Linked DNA regions of Homo sapiens: regions 2, 3 and 4 are each reported to be linked to region 1. The links are microRNA targets in miRTarBase. Many come from high-throughput screens and were not tested one by one. Region 1 holds a microRNA gene; each other region holds the end of a gene's coding sequence. Distances are from middle to middle.
The links. The annotated mature microRNA hsa-miR-548f-5p reads UGCAAAAGUAAUCACAGUUUUU and lies in region 1 at 1,739-1,760, opposite strand. An mRNA with a match to its seed (bases 2 to 7 or 8) in the 3' UTR can be bound and repressed. Matches are read on the target gene's strand: a 7mer-m8 pairs with bases 2 to 8, a 7mer-A1 pairs with bases 2 to 7 and ends in A, and an 8mer does both.

Region 1 (3,246 bases):
GCTAGTTGGTGAATGAGGAGGTGAAGTGGAGGAGATATGGGAAGAACCCATTTGTTTGGGCATTTTTTCTCAATGTACCTTAGTTTGTCTGTAGTAGCTGGCCACAGTAGTGATGATTCTATTTCCTGAGAGGTGAGAATTGCTGCCAAAGAATGTCTGCCATGGATGAGAATACAAAGAAAGGAAACTAAGAACTCTCAAAGCAGCTACTAGAAACCCTTCATAGAGGACAAGAATTATCTTCAGTTTTGAGATATATGAGAATGATTACAACTCCTTTGAGCAGGCTTCACATACTGCCCAAAGATGCTTCTCTAGTTTGTGTCCTTCTTGCTATCAGAAAGAGAGAAGGAAACTAAATAAAACAAAATAAAAATTTTAGAATTTTGTGCTGTCTTGGACATGGAAGCAATGGGTCAGGATCAAGATTGTGGAAAGATGCCAGTTCGGATGCAGGCTAGAAAAATTAGTATTGTCCTCAACTGGAATCAGCAACCAAAAGACTAAGTGTATGTGTCTCTGTAGGCTGAAGGGTTTTCAGATATCATAAAAGATAAGAAGTCAAGCTACACTTGTTTGGAAGCATGTGGCAGAGAACACAGATTAATTGTTTAAAGGATGGCCCAAACTTAAGGCCAAGTCACATCAAACCCATCAGAAACCAAAAGTGTGGCAGAATTCCTAACAGAAGGATGAGAGAGGAAGAGCCTTATATAGATCTGTCTTCTGTTTCACATTCTGACTATTCTAAAGCTTTTAATGAAGAATTCCCTAGAGTCATAAAACAAAGGCTAAATGGTGAGTGGCTGCAAATACACATAAAAATATAGTGAATTTTTTGAAAAGATATACTAATTTCAGGTGGCTAGAAAGATTTATTAACATAAGTAATAAAGGTCTTTTAGTTGTCAAAGTAACTTATACTTAATATTTATTGCAATTTTAAAAAATTAAAATGCTAAAAATTATTTGTGAAAATGAGTTGTTTTATATGTTTACATTTAATAACAATACTTTTTACATAAAGAAAATACAATAATTAAATATATCTGAACTAGTCAAAAGATAATTATAAGATTTAAAATTGAGTTTATGTGCAATAAATGTGGTAAACAATAATGTGATATAAAATCTTCTAAATTTAATAATATTCTTGGTAGAGGATTCTGGGGCAAAAATATGATTTTCTCCATATCCCTGCCCACTACCCAATATATGATAACATGTGGCATTATTAAATATGGAAAAATATTAAAGAATGGCAGTAGACTAGAGAGAAGAGAAGGAAAGGCATACAGGAAATCCAGGTCCCTGCCCTCAGAGACCTCTCAATTCCTGGCATATGTTTATGTTTTGAACATTATGCAAATTTGTCTGCATGACAAATTTATTCTTGTTTCAGGTTAAGAGTAGAAATCAACCCATAGTCCTTACGATTAGAATTGCCTTAGCATAACGATTCAATCAGTAAGAAAATATAATAGACTAGAGGGTAATGGAGATTTTAAAATTTATATTATCTTAATATATTTATTAGAAAAAATATTAGATTGCTCAATAAATCAATGGTAACTTTAAGGCTTTTACTGTCTACTACAAAGAATTTTTATAGATATATGAAGAATGATGGTAAGGAAGAGATATGATGCCATGAGGCCTACTGTGAGCAAGACACTGCTAATCAGGCTATTAGGTTGGTCCAAAAGTAATTACAGTTTTTGTCTTTGAAAGTAATGTCAAAAACTGTGATTACTTTTGCACCAACCTAATACTTCCGCACTTTGGAAAGGCTTTGCCTACATCATTTTGGTTATTGTGAGAAGACTTGCACACATAAGGAATTTTTCAAAATAATATTTTAACTTGAAATACTTTTCTTTGACAAATACAGTAAAAGTGATAGAGCCAAAAAGAGGACTAGGCATAGCCCTGAGGGGATTTCCGAGCAAAAAAATCCCAGGGGATTTGTATGCAAACACTTCGCTCAATAAAAGGAGAGGCCAGGTGTGGTGGCTCACAACTGTAATCCCAGCACTGTGGGAGGCCGAGGTGGCTGGATTGCTTGAGCCCAGGAGTTTAGGACGAGCATGGGCAACATGACAAAAACTTATCTCTACCAAAAAAAAAAAAGAAAAAATAGCGGACATGGTGGGGTACACCTATAGTCCAGCCACTTAGAGAGGCTGATGTGGGAGAAACGCTTCAACTCGGGAGTTTGAGACCCGCCTGGGCAGTTTAGTGAAACCTCATCACTACAGATAATAATAATAATAATTATCTGGGTGTGGTGACACACGCCTATAGTTTCAGCTACTCTGGAGGCTGAGGTGGGCGGATAGATTGAACCCAGGATATCTAGGCTGCAGTGATCTGTGATCATGCCACTGCACTCCAGCCTGGGTGACAGAGACCCTCTCTTAACAAAATAAAAAATACAAAAAGGAGAAAGTCATCAAACAAAATGATGTGACTTAGTCTGGTAATATTCGTCAAGAAGTCAAGATTTATGCTCTCTTACAATTCTGACTTTCACATTGAATTAAATTAAGGGTGTCTTGGCTTGTTTAGTGTAGTTTAGTAAAATACAGTCATTTGTTTTCCACAGCTATTATATTATTCTCCATTAAAAAAAGAAGAAGAAGAAGAAATGAGAAAAAAAAATCAGTCCCTAGCTAGAAATTTTAAGAGTCAATAACATTTGGGAAATGAAAATATATTCTGAAGTAGTATAATCATACCCAAATTTTTAGACTCTGTACTCAATCTATAAGATGTATGTGAGCAAAATATTATTAGAAGCAACATGAATGATAATCACGCACTACAAGCGCACGAATAATGTTTCCCTGAAAGGTACAATAAAAAATTATTCAATGTGAAACAAAACGTTGACTGCAACAATTATTAAAATTTGACTATTGAATTGTCAGTATACTCAATTATGAAGACATTTGGAAAATATAAATGAGCACTACTGTTTTTGCTCATTTTTTAAAAATGAAAATTTTTGGTAATGTCTGACCTGAAGGCAGATATTCATTATAATAGTCAAATATCATAAATACATTTCAAATGTTATGTATTCTACATAAATTACTCAGGAGAGGAACATGTAGGCTCATAAACTTGCACACAAGTAAAGGAATGTTTCTTAGGAAAAAATTCTGTGTTAAAGATATTCCACACCAATGTCTCAGGAAAAGGCATTTGTAGTATACTGCTCCATTACCTATGCTTCATAAAAAA
Region 2 (3,246 bases), not on the chromosome of region 1:
ATATTCTCTATTTCAAAAAATGGGGAAAAAATGTCTTTAAACTATGTCAAAAGTTTGCCATCCTGAAAAAAGATCTTTCCTGAACAGGGATATCTGCAGATACCTGAACAGGAAAAATGATGTGACTAAACCAGTAAGCCAGGAAATTTGAAGGTCTTCAGCCTTGTTACCTTCCAGGATTTTTTCTCCTTTTTAGTACTCAACATAATTTTGATGGTCTATATAAAACTAGAATAAATCTAAATGTAAAAGTCTAACGAAAGCTGATTTTCTTTAATAATAAACAGTGAATATCATGAGAAAAACCACTTTAAAGCTACCTCTCTTCTTTTTTTCATTTTTTAGAGATGGGATCTCACTCTATCCCCAGGCTGGTGTGCAGTGGTGTGATCGTAGCGCACTGCAGCCTCCAACTCCTGGGCTCAAGTGATGTTCCCACCTCACCTCCAGGTAGCTAGGACTCACAGGCTCTCACACCACCATACCCAGCTTGGGTCTCTTCTTGAACTAAACATTTTTATTTTATAAGCGCTAATTTAAAGTCAGTAAGAGCCCCCATTTAATTACAAACTTCAATAGTTACCCAGAAAAAGAAATAGTCTTTAAAATCATTTTGATAACAACTGTTTAATTTACTATTCAGATGGAAAGCCTGGTAGGATATTTGGGTAATGGTCTGTAATTAGGTAGCATAACTTTGTACACATGAATCAACTGGGACCCGATACAATCTAAAACAGAAATTCAAATATATTTTCCCTCAATGAAAAGGGCTGAGGAAGTCCTCCAAAATGTGGAGACATTTCAAGTCTACATCAACACACATCTGGACCTGTGCAGCATTCATTTAATTCTAAAAGAAGAGGCATACTGCTCAGAAAAGGGGCAGAGATTTCCCAGTCATCTTGCTTATTAAAACGGTTTAGATAAACCACACTTTTAGCTAGATGTACACTAGACAGCAATGTTTTAACAAGTCTAAAACACTATACAGGTTTTAAAATACTATGATAACAACTCAGTCATCATTGCAAAAAGGCATTCAACATGAATAAAATGTTTGAGGAAACTGATGTTTACCTCTTTTAATACCAAAGCTTTTTAAAAAGTTTTAATCAATTTAAGATAAAACTTTTAAAATATGTACTACATATCTGTGTATGCAATTTCACCTTTACTTAATTACCTAGAGGCATAATAAAGAATAATCATCAGATGATGTAGTATAGTGATGTCCTCTAGGCTGGGTAGCGGTCCTTACACTAATGGCCTTGGACAGTGTATGCTCTCAGAGTGTTTTTCAGTCTCCTTCCTTTCAAGCCATCCCTTCTAAACAGCTAATATGCTATAGTCTGGACAAGCAAATAATTAAATTTATTAAAATCTCTCATAAAAACAAATGCATAAGCTCTAACACACAGACTTTGTGACTTATATGGGTTGCTCAGAGGCATTTTTAAAAAAAACGATTCCAAGTTTCTGAGTTGTGTTCGGTTTTCACAAGACTGCCAGATTACCTCTAGATGAATGAGGCATTACTGTACATAGATACTTAAACAAGTTCATTTGAATATTAACAAAAAGATATAACTAAACTTATTATCTTTTCCTTTAAAACAAAGTATTCCGTAACTTTAAGGTAACACTGAGTTCCAGTTTCTTTCCCCCAAAAAACAAACATAAACAAATATCCTATAGATAATATCAGTTTGCCCAAAAAAAGAAAGAAAAAAACTGAGGTGCAATAATGTCACAGTTAATGCATGTCTACTTCCAATACATTCAAAGACAATTTTTTTTAAAAAAAATCAATAGTTAAAATAGGCCTTTTGCAGTCTGAGAATTCAAGATACTTAGAAAAATTTGTAAATACACATACATGCAAATTCTTCATATATACAAATTTCACAAAATTAATAAGCTGCAAAGAAATTAGTAGGATTATGGTAAATCTGACAAGCTACATTTAAATGCTTTACCACTGGCATATTCCTGAATGTAGCAGTCATAGTAGTTTTAATAAATTTTCTACATGGCCTTTTTATAAAAAGTCACTAAGAAGTCTTTTAAGAATTCAAGATGTTCTCAATTCACTACTCATATTTAAGGCCACTTTGGTAAAGGCATTGCAGCAAGAACACAAAAACAATAGCATATTTTATAATATTTATTTTTTTTCACCTGCAAACTGTAGCAAAACATGATCAGCTTTATTATGCAGACAGGTATCCCTCTACATTTTAAAAGAATTTAGGCATGTATAAATAGAAGAGCTCTTTAGAAAGGAAAAATTCAAGAATGAATAAAACCTTCCAATTTTGACTCTGTTACTTTCCAGTAGCAATGGTTAAAATGATTTTAGGTCATTCATTCCAAGATATATGACAGCACCTTAAAAGTGGCTGATCTATTTCCCCAGTAACATTTCTCACATAACAATGTGTTAAAGTTACAAATACTGATATGCACAAATAGCTAATTTCTAAGAAAAATATGTACAGTACTGCAGCATAATGAATGTGGTATCTGCAATAACTTAATATTAGCCAATTTTAATATACATGATACCGCTACCCTTTTCTGCCAATTCACAGGTTAGAAGGTGTTACTGGAGCCCTCGGTTTTGCACATATTACCTGGTGTTTAATACACAATGCAGGCTTTTTAAAGACTTCTCTTGTGTTTAAAGCTAAGATCAGTGAAACAAGACAACAGTGCAAGAGGTGGAGAGATGTAATGTGACCACATAAAAGTTCGTTCCAGTAAATTGTCTATATAAGGCTATAAGAAAGGATTGGTTGATGAGCTTCCTGTTGGAAATTGTCCTGTTGGTGCACCAGTCTAAAGGAAAACATAAGACAAATAAATAAAGAGACAAAAGTAGTGCATGTACAAAATATAAAAACATTAAACTGAATTTAATTTTTTTAATTAGACTTTTTGGTTAAGAATTATTTTTTAAATTATTGGCAATAATATTTGTTATTGGCAATAAGCTATATCAAACTACTATGTGTCATGAACTGTGCTACGTCTTTCATATCCAGTACTTCAAACAGTTCTTGTAATAGATTCTAAGAAGAATCTTAGAATGGTCTTAGAAAAGCACGTGTGATTCAAACAAAACTTCTGACTCTTAAGACCTCTCTTTTATGTTCACTAATTCCTAGGGCCTCTCATAAAGTGTTATTTTGACAAGAAAGCAGATAAGTTTCATATTATAAAATAGCTGATCTACTGTCAATG
Region 3 (3,246 bases), 54 Mb from region 1:
GAGGGTTAGCCTCAGCTGGCCTCCAATTAAGAATCTATTCCATTCTGAGTTGTGTATCTGTTTTTCAGGCTGATTTGCAATAATTGATATGCAGCTGATATAATAATCATCCTCTCCTTATTATATCATGTATGGTCTTTTTGAGATCTGGTGAAAGTAAATTCAATTTATACGTTTAAGTGAACAAATGATGTTTAACACACTGATTTTATATAAAGTTAAGCAGTCACTAAAGAGTGACCCACAGTATGTGATCAACATTTAGCGACGGTAGTATTTGGTTGGGTATAGGGGACTACACTAAATAAACAAATTACTAAAGCTAGTTTTTTTTAAATACATTTATTAACCAATGTTAACACATTAAATGAATCTATATATTGCTAGTCAGAGCAGCTTACAAAATGCCAGAATGCATCATAGAACTGGACAGCCACAATGAATAATTACAATGTGCATAGTGGCTAAGCTCAACACCTCGATATAGCTTTATGATTTGCAGAAAATTTTTAATAATGATTCCTAAAACAATCAATTGTAATTTTACCTAAAACTTTTACAAAACCAGGCCACAATCTCTTTTTTTAATTTTGTTTTTTTTTAAACACACAGTTTTCACGCTGTAGTAACTTGGAAATGTGCAACCGTGTCAACAGAGACAGAAAAGCCAAAGTAACACGAATCTCACTTTCATGCAGCTATCAGTTAAATATTACATACTCTGGAATGATTTTACACCAAAAATATTTCCACAATTACTTGCTCTCATAGGGGTGGATCGAAGTCTTAAAACTTGAAAAACAATCAAAGAAGGTTAAGTGTTCTCGGTTCTGACATCTCCATCAGCGCCACACACTGTGGCAACACTGACTAATTACACAGCAACAAGGAGGGAACGATGATGCCAAGTTACTGCATAATTTAGGTACATTGTATGAAATGGGGCTACTGGGTACTTTTTACAAAATATTGTGCACCATTTGGCAGTAGTTTGTCAATTAACTTGTGTCACCACCATCTGCAACAGCATCAAGATTAGATGGATGATATTTCACAGAAGACTTAGTTACATTTTTATCTTTAGAGTGACCCTGACAAACCTGGAGAATACTTTTTAAAAGGCTTTTCTCCTGATTCTTTCACTTCCATTGTGAGTAATTGCTTTAATAAATATCAAAGGTCTAAATAAATATGTACAAATTATTCTCTAACCTCAAAAAATAACTAAATGATAAATGGGAATTTGACTTGGTCTAAGATCAGTCTTTAAAAATACCACATAAATTGTGAGATATTTTAAAAGAAAAGTAATTTAAGTTTTCCTGGCTGTATTTTATATATCTATGTATAAAAAATCATTATTCAACTATCGATCCATTCCTATTGGTAATGCTTCTTAATCCAGACATTCCGCAAAATACAGACTTTTTACAAATCACGGCATCTTTAATACAAGAAAATTAACATGCATTATTCTTCATTCTGTGTACAGTGATGGAGTTCATTAGTAGGCAATGACCCATTACTACAAACATAACGGCTTCTGTGAAACTTAAGTGCTTTCTCTTCTTTTAGTATTAACTTACGATACATGAGGTGACACCAGATAATAGGCAGTGAGATGATATGTGGGAAGGGAAGGGAAGCATTAAACAAATTCGTATGCCTCATCTATAATTTCACATATGGATAAAGGTAGTTTTTGGCTTTGTTTTTGTTGTTTATTTTGTTACAAGCACTCATGTTAGGACAAAGATGAAATGTGCAAACTTTAAAATTTAAATATTCATTTTCTCTAAGATCCAGCTCAGTAAAAGATTACCCCAGTTCCCTGCAATTTTAAACTACAAGATCAAAGCTAATAATTTGTTATAAAAGTTATATATTGAAAAGAAATAATGAAAAACACAATTGGGAAATATTTAAGAAAAAATATGCAGGACTAGCCCTGCTGTGTCAACCCTGTTCCCTAAATTCAATCATATACCCACTGGTGTGACCAACAGATAATGCCTTTGAACAGTAAATTAAGCTGAACAAAACCAGCTCAACAAGGTTAAGAAAAAAATGTCACATCAAGGTAGTATGTTTTATTTCTGAAACAGTTCTGTAGTTCTTACATTCAGATCTATTCTAAATGTTTCTTTGTTAAACTCACTTGTATTCACCTGTTTTTTAAAGATCTGTTGTTTAAAGGTTAAAATCTCTGTAAAACCTAAAAATGTTTTAAAATTTGCTGAAAATGCAACAAATTCTCAATTAAAATTTATTTAAAATAATACCCTCCACTGATGTTACTTTTACCCCCTGAAAAACTTCGGAGGAGCATTAACAAAAGATTTAAACTACTGTGCAAAATTTCTTCACGAAAAGTGTTTAAAGGCTGGTGCAAAATGGGAAGCAAATTCTAAACAATTTTGGCTTCTTGGAAACAAAAACCGCTGTGTCTGAAAAGAGTAATCATCGGGGTGACTCCGGGAAGGGCCAGCTTCATCTTTTCCGGCGGCAGGTGCGCTTGTGCTCCGCGTGCCAGTGCTCCTGCTGGCACTTGATGGAGCAGTAGGATGTGTTCCAGCAGCAGTGGTACATGGCCTCCTCCTCACAGTTGTAGCACTGCAGGTAAGAAATCGGGGCAGTCTTTAGACTTGGGTGTGGATGTGTAAGCGACTGGTTAAAATGGCAAACTCTTGAGGTGGTGCTTTTAAAAGATCTTTCTGGCTCAACCTTTTGTGGAATCTGAATACGTTTTATGCACAGCAGATGGAAAGGGAGCCCTGGGGATGACTGCAGCTCATGCCTGGTTGTCAGCAAACTCAAGCTGCTGTCAGGTGGTACCTGACACCTCCCGTTTTTTCCATCTCTGTGAGAGTCATTCCCGTTTCTTTTCTTAAAATGCTCTTGACTTCACATCCCTTTCCAGCTACCACTTGCATTTCTCTGCTCCCCACAAGCTCCTTGAAAGACTTGCCTAAACTCCCTATTTCAAATTCTTCTCTCGTCGTTAACATACGCTGCAGTCTTTACTCATACCATGCCACTAATATGCTGCTAGCAGGGTCACTTACAACTTCAAATCTAGTGGCCAAGTCTCAGTCTTCATCTTATTTGGCAATGTCTGGAGATATTTTTGACTGTCACAACTTAAGGGCAGAAGGTACTACTGGCAGACAGAGGCCTGGGATGCTGTTAAACATCCCACCATGTACACCTCCCCCAAAGAATGTTCTAGTGCAAGGGTCCATATAC
Region 4 (3,000 bases), not on the chromosome of region 1:
TGGGCCACCTGCTGAAGGAGAAGTACAACGCGGCCGTGCAGGTGGAGGTGGTGCGGGCCAGCCGTCTGCGGCAGCCCACCTTCCTGCGCATCAAACAGCTGCGCAGCTATCAGAAGCCCATGGAGACAGACCTGGTGTACATTGAGAAGTCGCCCAACTACTGCGAGGAGGACGCGGCCACGGGCAGCGTGGGCACGCAGGGCCGTCTCTGCAACCGCACGTCGCCCGGCGCGGACGGCTGTGACACCATGTGCTGCGGCCGAGGCTACAACACCCACCAGTACACCAAGGTGTGGCAGTGCAACTGCAAATTCCACTGGTGCTGCTTCGTCAAGTGCAACACCTGCAGCGAGCGCACCGAGGTCTTCACCTGCAAGTGAGGCCAGGCCCGGAGGCGGCCGCGGGCACCCTGGAACCCGGCGGCATTTTGCACATCCACTCCTCACCTTCCCTGCCTTGGTGCTGCCAGCAGCAGACATAGACGGGTGCAGAAGCGGGGAGCTCCAGGTGCAGGAGGGCACCGGCCGGGGCCCACGCCCTCTGCCCGCCTCCCTGGGGCTCCTTCCTGCCACCTCCTCCCATCACCTCCTGCGGCAGAACAGCACCCGTGACCCACCCAGAGAGCAAGGCCAGGGGTCTTGGTGCTCCCCGACGGGGCCCGGCAAGTTCTCTTTCTTCTCTCTGGGAAAATGAACGTCCAGGACACACCTGTATCCCAGAGAGCAAAGTGATGAGGAGACTGAGCGTCCCCAGCCCCACCTGGCGGCATGGACACAGAAAAGCTACGCCGGCTGGCCTCTCCAGACCAGTTCCCAGGCTGGGTCTGCCGCTGGGCCCTGGGGCGGTGGGGACAGATGTTGACACAAATTATTTATGTTTTCTTAGTATCAGAAGAGGATTCTCGGCACTAACACATAGCCAGTCCTAACTCCGTACTCTGTGTCAGCCCATCCCCTAGACACCCTCTGTTTCCTTTCCCGGCCCCACCTGGCCGGCCCTCTGCCCCTGCAGAGCTGAGGCAGCCTGGGGTTGATGGGGACCACGCGGTGCCTGCAGGTCCTAGAAGTGAGCTGGGCAGGGGCTCTTCAGACCACACAGCCCTGACCGGGCCTTGGAGGAGAGCCATGGACAGGCTCCTCCATGCCGTCTTTCCTTCTTTTGAAAATCCTATCAATGGCTGGGCGCGGTGGCTCACACCTGTAATCCCAGCACTTTGGGAGACCGAGGCAGGTGGATCACCTGAGGTCAGGAGTTCGAGACCAGCCTGGCCAACGTGGTGAAACCCTGTCTCTACTAAAAATACAAAAATTAGCTGGGCGTGGTGGCGTGCACCTGTAATCCCAGCTACTCAGGAGGCTGAGACAGGACACTTGCTTGAACCCGGGAGGTGGAGGTTGCAATGAGCCAAGATTGTGCCACTGTATTCCAACTTGGGTGACAGAGCACGACTCTGTCTCAAAAAAAGAAAAGAAAATAATATCAAGCAAATCAAAATATCACCCACGTCAGGTTCCAGGAGTCCTTCGTTCCCTCCCTCATCCTGTCACCCTCCCGGCCTGGCACCTCCAGTTTACAGAGACCCCCTTCCCCCTGGAGCCAGCCTGACCCCTGGGACAGTGCTGCCGCGGGGGTCAGGCAGGTGGTGAGTGGTCAGGGATGTTTGTCCCACTTGACAGATGGGAACTCTGAGGCCCAGAGTGGCACAAGGACCTACCAGAGACCCTGCAGCTGTGACTGGAGGCTTCCACCTTTCTCCTGCCCAGCCTGGGGCTCTGGACCTGGGAGAACACATCAGGATGCCCGGGGTGGCAGTAGGTAGCTCCCATGCCTTGAGGCACTTGGCTGCTCCCTCCACCCCCTGACAGCCTCATTGGGGCCTGCACTCCCCTCGGTGCCTTTGAGGCTTCGCCTAGCCCTGTCCTGGTCCTTTTACCCTGACCCCAGTGCTGAGAAAATCTGGATCCAGAGCTGGACATGTCCTTTCTGGATGCTCCCACCCCTGTCTCTGAGGAGCATGAGTGACAGAGGGAGGAACTTGTCCGAGGCCAGAGAGGATGGTCTGCAGCTGGCTCCTGGTGCACCCCCACTGCCCACGGCCTGGCCCCCATTTAGGGTGTGTTCTCTTGGAAGCCCGTAGGAATGTGTTCTTGAGCAGCCGACAAGCCAAGGGCCTGGGCTCAGCCTGGGGCAAGTGGGTCCCTCCTGGGCTCTGGCCCTGTGGTCCAGCCCATGTGCCTCTAACCATGCCTGGACGCTCTGAGTCTCCGGGCCACCGTGAATGCCCCACCCTCAGCCTGGCCCCATCCCCTTACCTTCCCCAAGTCCCAGAACACACCTGAGTCCATAGGCCCGGCAGCCTCTGCAAGGAACCTGGTTAACTTATGTTGTTATATAGCGTCGAAATGTCTATAGTGTCTTTAAATTATTGTGACCTACACTGGGTACCGGAGAGGGGGATGGCTGCGGCCCCCATCCCTCATCCCCCATCCCATCCCATCCCTCATCTCATCCCTCATCCCATCCCCCATCCCATCCCTGACCCCATCCCCCATCCCATCCCTCATCCCTATTCCCCATACCCACCCCCCATCCCATCCCCCATCTCCCGAACCAGGCTCCTCCTGCTTCAACAGACCCTTGGGGCCCCTGATGCCACCGAGACACTCGCACTGTCCCTTGGCTGCCGGGCACCCCACTGAGCCCCTGCCCACCCCAAAGTCTGCCAGCAACAGGCCCTTTGCCTGGGTGAGACGGGGGTCAGGGTGGCCCAGATGGGGGTGATGGCGACCAAGGTGCTGCGTCCCCACCCTTCTGACGGCAGCCTCCCCTGGAGGGGAGTGCTCGGCCCAATAAAAGCTGGAATCGGAAAAGTGAGTGTGTGTGGAATCCCCATGCGATGTACCTGCAGCTGCGGCCCCACCGGTGGGGACACATGCTCTGCCCACCCAGGACGAGCCCCCGAGGCCTTCATGTGCCCCCAGCTGTCTGGCTTCCTCCTGC

Region 2: the mRNA of AGFG1 is a reported target of hsa-miR-548f-5p. Seed matches in the 3' UTR shown: 7mer-A1 at 1,030-1,036.
Region 3: the mRNA of ZMYND11 is a reported target of hsa-miR-548f-5p. Seed matches in the 3' UTR shown: 7mer-A1 at 2,388-2,394 and 7mer-A1 at 2,352-2,358.
Region 4: the mRNA of WNT7B is a reported target of hsa-miR-548f-5p. Seed matches in the 3' UTR shown: 7mer-A1 at 426-432.

The regions. Positions count from the first base shown.
Region 1 is chr10:54,606,188-54,609,433 of GRCh38, forward strand. It overlaps MIR548F1 (microRNA 548f-1), which reads right to left and starts at 1,770; the gene lies at 1,687-1,770. The region is part of intron 2 of PCDH15 (protocadherin related 15); the gene reads right to left. LOC105378311 (a long non-coding RNA gene) reads left to right here. Exons shown (of 6, transcript NR_134503.1): 3 at 1-798.
Region 2 is chr2:227,554,031-227,557,276 of GRCh38, reverse strand. It overlaps AGFG1 (ArfGAP with FG repeats 1), which reads right to left. Exons shown (of 13, transcript NM_004504.5): 13 at 1-2,841. The coding sequence ends at 2,782. Among named protein-coding and RNA genes, the nearest start is that of SCYGR2, 43 kb to the left of the region's middle.
Region 3 is chr10:251,715-254,960 of GRCh38, reverse strand. ZMYND11 (zinc finger MYND-type containing 11) reads right to left here. Exons shown (of 15, transcript NM_001370100.5): 15 at 324-2,613. The coding sequence ends at 2,491. Among named protein-coding and RNA genes, the nearest start is that of ZMYND11, 120 kb to the right of the region's middle.
Region 4 is chr22:45,920,236-45,923,235 of GRCh38, reverse strand. WNT7B (Wnt family member 7B) reads left to right here. Exons shown (of 4, transcript NM_058238.3): 4 at 1-2,870. The coding sequence ends at 380. Among named protein-coding and RNA genes, the nearest start is that of WNT7B, 55 kb to the left of the region's middle.